Homo sapiens: one gene and its partner. The protein of the gene in region 1 interacts with the protein of each later gene in a biochemical or structural test. Each region holds a gene or a part of one and is shown on either strand. Other genes may lie near its edges. The genes, in order: RAB22A and APPL1.

Region 1 (3,913 bases):
TACTAATAATGATCACATGAATAACGGTAACAGCAGCCATTATTTACCAACTGTTTATTACATACTAGGCATTGTGCTAAATCCTTTATTCATTTAATCCCTTATAAAAGCCTTTTGAGGTGGGCCACTATAATGCCCATTTTACTGATGAGGTCGCTGAGGCATAGAGTGGTACAGCGACTTGCCTGGGATCACACTGACAGTAAACAGTGATACGGGATTTCACTCTTGGCCATCTGATTCCACAGACACCGGGCTCTTAACTATCAGCTTGCTTTACCCCTTCAAAAGTGTTATGCTACTTTAACAAAACTGCCCCTTGTTGGTTTGTTTTGTTTTGTTTTGTTTTTTTGAGACGGAGTCACTCTGTCGCCCAGGCTGGAGTGCAGTGGCGTTCACTGCAACCTCTGCCTCCCAGGTTCAAGCAATTCTCCTGCCTCAGCCTCCCGGGCAGCTAAGATTAGAGACGCGCGCCACCAAGCCCGGCTAATTTTTGTATTTTTAGTAGAGACAGGGTTTCACCATGTTGGCCAGGCTGGACTCAAGTGATCTGCCCGTCTCTGCCTCCCAAAGTGCGGGGATTACAGGCCTGAGCCACCGCACCCAGCCGAAACTGCGCCTTCTGAGTTAATGTGTGTAAAGAGTTTAAGACTGGGCCGGGCGTGGTGGCTCACGCCAGTAATCCCAACACTTTGGGAGGCCGAGGTGGGCGGATCACGAGGTCAGGAGATCGAGACCATCCTGGCTAACAGAGTGAAACCCCTTCTCTACTAAAAATACAAAAAATTAGCCGGGAGTGGTGGCGGGCGCCTATAGTCCCAGCTACTTGGGAGGCTGAGGCAGGAAAATGGCGTGAACCCAGGAGGTGGAGCTTGCAGTGAGCCGAGATCGTGCCACTGTACTCCAGCCTGGGCTACAGAGCAAGACTACGTCTCAAAAAAAAAAAAAAAAAAAAAAGAGTTTAACGCTGTCTGGTCCATGGTAAGTTTTCAGTAAACACCAACTCTTACTATTAGGAAACCTGAAGATGTGGAATGAAAGATGAGAGGAAGTACTGTATATGACTGGCGTACAGTACGCCCCCAATTAATGTTAGCTATTTGGATGATTTATATAGGGCTTCTTCACCAGCAAGCACTCCGGTGCTCGGTAATTTTCTGTTTACAAGTAGGCTCTCCCCACACCCTGTGAGCTCCCTGCGTGTAGAGCTGTTTTCAACACATCCTTGCAGGTTCGGAGCCCAACACGTGGCCCCCAGAGCAAATAGCTGCTCAGTAAGTTTCTTGACAGGAGAGAAAACGCTTCCTTCCTTCACCAGAAATGCGAACTTGGATTTCTAAGATGACACCTCCCCCAGCTACCAGCCCTTAACATGATTCCAAAAAAGAGGGCAAGAAGGGACAAGGGTCCCACCCAAGAAATGCGGGGGCCAATGGGCTCCATGGGATAAGAGATGGAGCCGGGCTTGTGGCCAGGACACTTGAGAAGTCCGTGCAACTCCGTGACCGGCCACACCGAGAGGGGGACCTCCCAAACCCCCCAGCAGTCCTAAAAAGTCCCTAGGAAAAGGGCAAGGCCCTGAGAGGGAAGTCACCCACCTCCCAGGTGGCGGACCCCCCGCCCGCCCAGGGTCGACTAGGACTTGGGACTACCCCCTCCGCCCATCCCACGGCAGCTGCAGGCGCAGGAAGAAAAGAAGTGACAGGGAGTCCAAAGTTTCCCCAACAACAAAAATCCTTCCCCCGAGGGAAGGGAAGGGCTCCCACCCTCAGCCCGCCCCGCCCAGGGAGGAGGGACCGCCACCAGTGGATCTAGGCAGTTGGGGGTCCCGCTGTTCTGGTCCCGACAAGGAGTGCCTGGCTTGAGGTTCCCCCGCCCCGCGCTTCGTGCACTCTGAATTCTTTGAGAGGGTCCCAGGGAGGGACAGGGGTGCCCCAACTCTTACTTACAGTCGTCTAAGTCATCCTGCAAGTCCACAAAGTACAGGGGGATCTCTGAAAACCAAGAAACACACAAGAAGTTACCAGGGGGCTGCGGCGAGAGGGGACGGGGTCGGGCAGGGGCCCCTCGGCCTCGCGGGGTGGTCACGGGGCGAGAGAGAGAGGGGCACCCCTGGCATCCCCCGAGCCCAGCCCCACTCACCCGCCATCTTGGGATGGGCATGGAGGCGGGACCGGCAGGGGCGGGGCCCTGCAGACAGGGGCGGGGCCCTGCAGACAGGGGCGGGGCCCTGCAGACAGGGGCGGGGCCCTGCAGACAGGGGCGGGGCCCTGCAGACAGGGGCGGGGCCCTGCAGACAGGGGCGGGGCCCTGCAGACAGGGGCGGGGCCCTGCAGACAGGGGCGGGGCCGTCGGCTTCGGGCCCCGCCCCCGATCCGCGCCGGCCGGCCGGCCCCGCCCTCTCAGCGAAGGTGGCTGCCGAGGTGGGCGGGGAGGTCAGGTGACGCGGCCGGCGTCCCAAGATGGCGGCGGCGGCGGCTCCCGGAAGGCCGCGGCGGCGTCCCGGCTGCTAAGGCGGGCCCCACGCGGCTGGCAGCGGACAGGCCGGACCTACGGCCGGAGGACGGGCGGCAGCCGCCTCTGCGCGGACCGGGGCTGGGCCGTGCGGCGGCAGCGGCGCCAGGGGATGCTCTTGCTGGGCCTGGCCTCTCCCTTCTCAACTTAGGGCGGCGGCGGGCCCGCGCCCCTGGCTCCCGGGCCATGGCGCTGAGGGAGCTCAAAGTGTGTCTGCTCGGGGTGAGTGGCGGCGGGTCCGGCCGGGAGGGCCACGGGAGGCTGGGCTGGCGGGGACCCCGGATCCCCCCTGTCCCCTCATCCCTTCCCCCCTCCCACGTCCAAGACGCTGTCTGCCAGCCCCGTGGACCCTCCCTCCAGCTCGGGAGCCGTCCCGCCCACCTCTTGCACTCTCGAAAAGGTCCTGGAGGCCGAAGGGACCCTTCCCCTTCCCCTCCCTGGAGCCCGTGGACTCTTCCCGCCCCACAAAGAGCAAACAGCCCCCCCTTGCCTCTCTATTGCATCTGGGTTAAGAGAGGTTCTTAAATAGTTTTCTCCCAACTTACCAAGGTATTAGTTGGGAGTTGGCCAAGTCTTCCAAAGTAAAACCAATAACAGGTCTTTAGGTTTTACAAGCAGCATTAGCCTACTTTGTCTCTTGGGTGTTTTTGAACTTGTGGGATACCCCTGCCACTTGTCCAAAGAGTTACTTTGCCAAGTAACTCTTCCTGTGGAGAAAAGGGGTGTTCAAATCAGGAAGCCCCAAAGACTAGTTTGAAGCTTCAGCTTCCTGTCTTGTCAGGAAAGACAAGGTGTTGGCCATTTCAAAGCCTTCTTTCTGAAATTGATGCTGTCATTCCAGAGTTTCTGCCTTAAAGATCGGCAGGAACTCCAATAACTAATCTTTATTCCCCCAAATAGGGTGGGGCTAGGATTCATCAGGGATTACTCAGAGGTAACTCAGGAGTTCAAAGTTTACTAACATATGTTAAAAAGCAAGTGGACTTGTTACTTTTTACACGAAGCAGAAACTTTGGGTCTCTCAAAAGGTCCTAATCTGTCTTAACGGCAAAAACCTCTCCCTTTTAGTACAGTTGGAATTTCCTAATTACTCTACTGAATTTTTATGACAACCGCTTTTGTGTTCCTCCGTTTATAAAATTTACACGTCTAGGGTGATTTTTCTAAAATCCTGAACTTATGCCACAAAGTAGTTTTTGGTGTCTGCCAAAAGGTAAACTTTTTCTCAGTCCCTCATCTCGTTCTCTTTCAGGATACAGGTGTAGGTAAATCGAGTATTGTGTGGCGGTTTGTGGAAGACAGTTTTGATCCAAACATCAACCCAACAATAGGGTAAGAGACTTTTATTTGATACACATCTAAAGGTGCATTGAAAATCCTTCCAAATACATAGTGTGTT
Region 2 (3,913 bases), on another chromosome or scaffold:
GAATTTTGGCACCATCCTATAAAAGCCAGCATTCAAACTAAAATCTAATATTTTATCTTTCTTTTTTTATGACCAACAACCAAATAAAGCCCATCATCAATCATCTCTCACTATATATTATAGTAAAACCCTCGAAAGGGATCACCCCCACACTCCTTTCCCTTCCCCTCTCCAGCCCTTTTCTCCATCCCTGTCCAATTCATCTTTGCTAAATCAGGTGTCACCTTCCCTCAGCCTCGCCTATCAAGAAAGCCTCACTTCAATGTCATCTTTGCCACTTCCCTCTTCTTTGTCCAGAGAGCCAGCCCACAGCCAATGCTTATTGATCTGTTCTAAGCATCCCAGCTGTCTCCTCTTTTCTATTCCTACTGTCAATCTACAACCCATAACACGCTCTTACAATTTCATGGATCATTTAATGCATTCTTCAAGTTTTGCTCTGAAATTTGTCTTTTAAAATTATTCTGTTGGATGGACAATGATTTGACACTCCTGGCAATATTAAAAATATACATTTCATTATATATTTCATATAACATATATATTTATTTATTTCCCCCCCATAGAAGGCAAAATGGCTTTCAGCAATGGCAGTTAAGTCTACACAGCCTCTCAACTGCTTTGACAGAGACAACCTCCTCTGAAATATTAAAGTTCTGGTATATTTTTGAAACAGTCATATTACATGTCAACGTAACTATAATGTAAACATCATATCAAAAAACAGATGTGACCCTTTTCTGCTATGGTATGAATCATCTGTTTATGAAGTGGCTGAACAAGCAGAAACAGCCCTTCATTTGGAAATTCAAATCTGAAAGTCATAGTGCTGAATTAAGTCTTCACAAACAACACATAAAGATCCAGACATTAGGACTGTATACCTTTTCAATCTGTTTTTGTTTATTGAGTTCTTTCTGTTGCTTCTCTTTTACTCTCTCTATTTCTTTTTGTTTTTCTGATGCCCTACGATCCTAAAGAACAGATGAATAAAACTAATGAATTAAATATGAAATAACTTTAAATTTTAGACATTTCAGTTAATATCACATGGTAACCTTTCAATATTTTTTTGCATTTATACATAAGAAAGCACATCAACAGTTTATATTCAATGGTAAACAATTATCCAAATTCTAAATGCTATGTTGGTAATAGTATCACTGTTAACCTTGCTTAGCAAAATCATTTTATTTACTTGCTAATATGAAAGAGCTAATATACTATTTTAGTTAACATTCTTGGAAAATCAAGCATCTTGGATTCCTTTTTTTTTTTTGAGATACAGTCTCGCTCTGTTGCCCAGGCTGGAGTGCAGTGGTGTGATCTCGGCTCATTGCAACCTCCGCCTCCCGGATTCAAGTCATTCTCGTGCCTCAGACCTCCTCAGTAGCTGGGATTACAGGTGCACGACACCACACCCAACTAATTTTTGTATTTTTAGTAGAAATGGGGTTTCACCATGTTGGCCAGGTTAGTCTCGAACTCCTGACCTCAAGTCATCTGCCCGCCTCGGCCTCCCAATGTGCTGCGATTACAGGTGTGAACCACTGTGCCCAGCCACATCTTGGATTCTTACCAGTTCAGCATGCAAAGCTATCTGTTTTGCCAGTCCAACAGAATCACATATCTAAAAAGAGAAAAAGTATGAAAAATTCAGGCAGTTCTCACAACAAAGCAAAAATGTCAAGTATCCAAATAACTGATGGAACTAGTTTTATAACTAATCCTAATACATTGCTTCAAGCAAAAGCATATTTAAGAATGCTCAAGCCCCCAAACCAAGGCTTTGTATGTTTTCCTTGAAGTCTACAGGATTCCACTGCTGACTCTCACCTTCATATATACCCCACTTCTTGTTATGTCAAATTCATTACTGTCACAGTAAGGCCTACGAGGAAGAAGCATGCAGCTGCTAATGCTATTCTCAGCTGAAGACATCTGAAAATGGCTGGTTTTGGTTCCCAACATAATGTTTGGTTCCCAACATAAATGAGAGGCTAAAAGATTGCACCAGCTATCAGTGGCAGGGAAAACATGGGTCTGTAGAGTCAGAAGGCCCAAACCATCAGCTTGGCTCTATTCAGAGATGCTTTGCTCAAGCAGCTCAGTAAGCCTAGGCAAAATTTGGGAGTTTTTTCCAAAAATCTTAGAATTATATAAGAATTTTATTTACACAAAAAACTACAAAACACTGATGAAAGAGACTGAAGACACAAAAGAACATCCCATGCTCATGGATCAGAATAATATAGTTAAAATAACCATATTGCCCAAAGCAATCTATAGGTTCAATGCAAATAGCCAAAGCAATCTTAAACAAAAAGAACAAAGCTGGAGGCATCACATTACCTAACTTCAAAATATATTACAAGGCTATAGTAAGCAAAACAGCAGGGGATTGTTATAAAAATAAGACACATGGCCAATGGAACAGAATAGAGAACCCAGGAACGAAGCCACTTGTTTACAGCCAACTGATCTTTAACAAAAGTGACAAAGAACTTTCACTGGGGAAGGGATATCCTCTTCAATAAATGGTTCTGGCAAGATTGGAGAGCCACATGTAGAAGAATGAAACCAGACCCCTCCCTCTCACCATACACAAAAATCAACTCAAAATACATTAAAGACTTAAACATAAGACCCAAAACTATAAAAATACTACAAGAAATTATAAGGATCAGAGCAGAAATAAATGAATCTGACATGAAGAAAACAATACAAAAGATCAACATAACAAAAAGTTGGTTTCTTTGAAAAGATAAAACTGACATTTAGCCAGACTAAGAAAAAGAAGACTCAAATAAAATTGGAGATTAAAAAGGTGACATTACAATTGATACTGCATAAATTCAAAGGATCATTCGTGGCTACTATGAGCAACTACATGCTAGTAAATTGGAAAATCAAGAAGAAATGGATAAATTCCTAGACAAATACAACCTACCAAGATTGAACCACGAAGAAATCCAAAACCTGAACAGTCCAATAACAAGTAACAAGATCCAAACCATAATAAAAAGTCTCCTGGTAAAGAAAAGCCCAGTACCTGATGGCTTTCCTGCTGAATTCTACCAAACATTTAAAGAAGAACTAATACCAATCTTACCCAAAATGTTCCAAAAAATAGAGGAGAAGGGAATACTTCCAAACTCATTCTACGAGGCCAGTATTACCTGATACCAAAACCAGACAAAGACATATCAAAAAAAGAAAACTACAGGCCAATATATCTCATGAATATTGATGCAAAAATCCTCAACAAAATACTAGCAAACCAAATTCAACAACACATTAAAAAGATCATTTATCATGACCAAGTGGGATTTATCCCAGGAATGCAAAGATAGTTCAACATATGCAAATCAATCAATATGCTACATCACATCAACAGAATAAAGGACAAAAACTATTTAATCATTTCAATTACTGCTGAAAATGCATTTGATAAAGTTCAACATCCCTTCATGATTAAAAACCCTCAAAAAAACTTGGTATAGAAGGAATATAGCTCAACATAATAAAAGCCATATATGACAGACTCACAGCTAGTATCATACTGAATGCAGAAAAACAAAAAGCCTTTCCACCTTTTAGATGGAAGATGAGTAATCAGGTAAGAGAGGAAAAAAGGCATCCAAATTGTAAAGGAAGAAGTCAAACTATCCTTGTTTGCAGATGATATGATGATCTTATATTTAGAAAAACCTAGACTCCACCAAAAAACTATTAGAACTGATGAATTCAGTAAAGTTTCAGGATACAAAATCAACATACAACAATTAGTAGCATTTCTATATGCCAACAGTGAACAATCTGAAAAAGAAATAAATAAAGTAATCTCACTTACAATAGCCACAGATAAAATTAAATACCCAGGAGTTAACCAAAGTGAAAGATCTCTATAATG

What was found.
Region 2: the proteins of RAB22A (region 1) and APPL1 form a complex in vitro, tested with the Homo sapiens proteins (one study listed by IntAct).

Annotation. Positions count from the first base shown.
Region 1 is NC_000020.11:58,307,277-58,311,189, forward strand, and holds the start of RAB22A (ras-related protein Rab-22A), read left to right. Parts: upstream 1-2,438; 5' UTR 2,439-2,700; coding exon 2,701-2,736; intron 2,737-3,766; coding exon 3,767-3,846; intron 3,847-3,913. UniProt on the Homo sapiens protein: Plays a role in endocytosis and intracellular protein transport. Mediates trafficking of TF from early endosomes to recycling endosomes. Required for NGF-mediated endocytosis of NTRK1, and subsequent neurite outgrowth.
Region 2 is NC_000003.12:57,265,459-57,269,371, reverse strand, and holds part of APPL1 (DCC-interacting protein 13-alpha), read right to left. Parts: intron 1,631-3,913; coding exon 1,580-1,630; intron 1,031-1,579; exon of another isoform or gene 975-1,030; coding exon 885-974; exon of another isoform or gene 1-884. UniProt on the Homo sapiens protein: Multifunctional adapter protein that binds to various membrane receptors, nuclear factors and signaling proteins to regulate many processes, such as cell proliferation, immune response, endosomal trafficking and cell metabolism.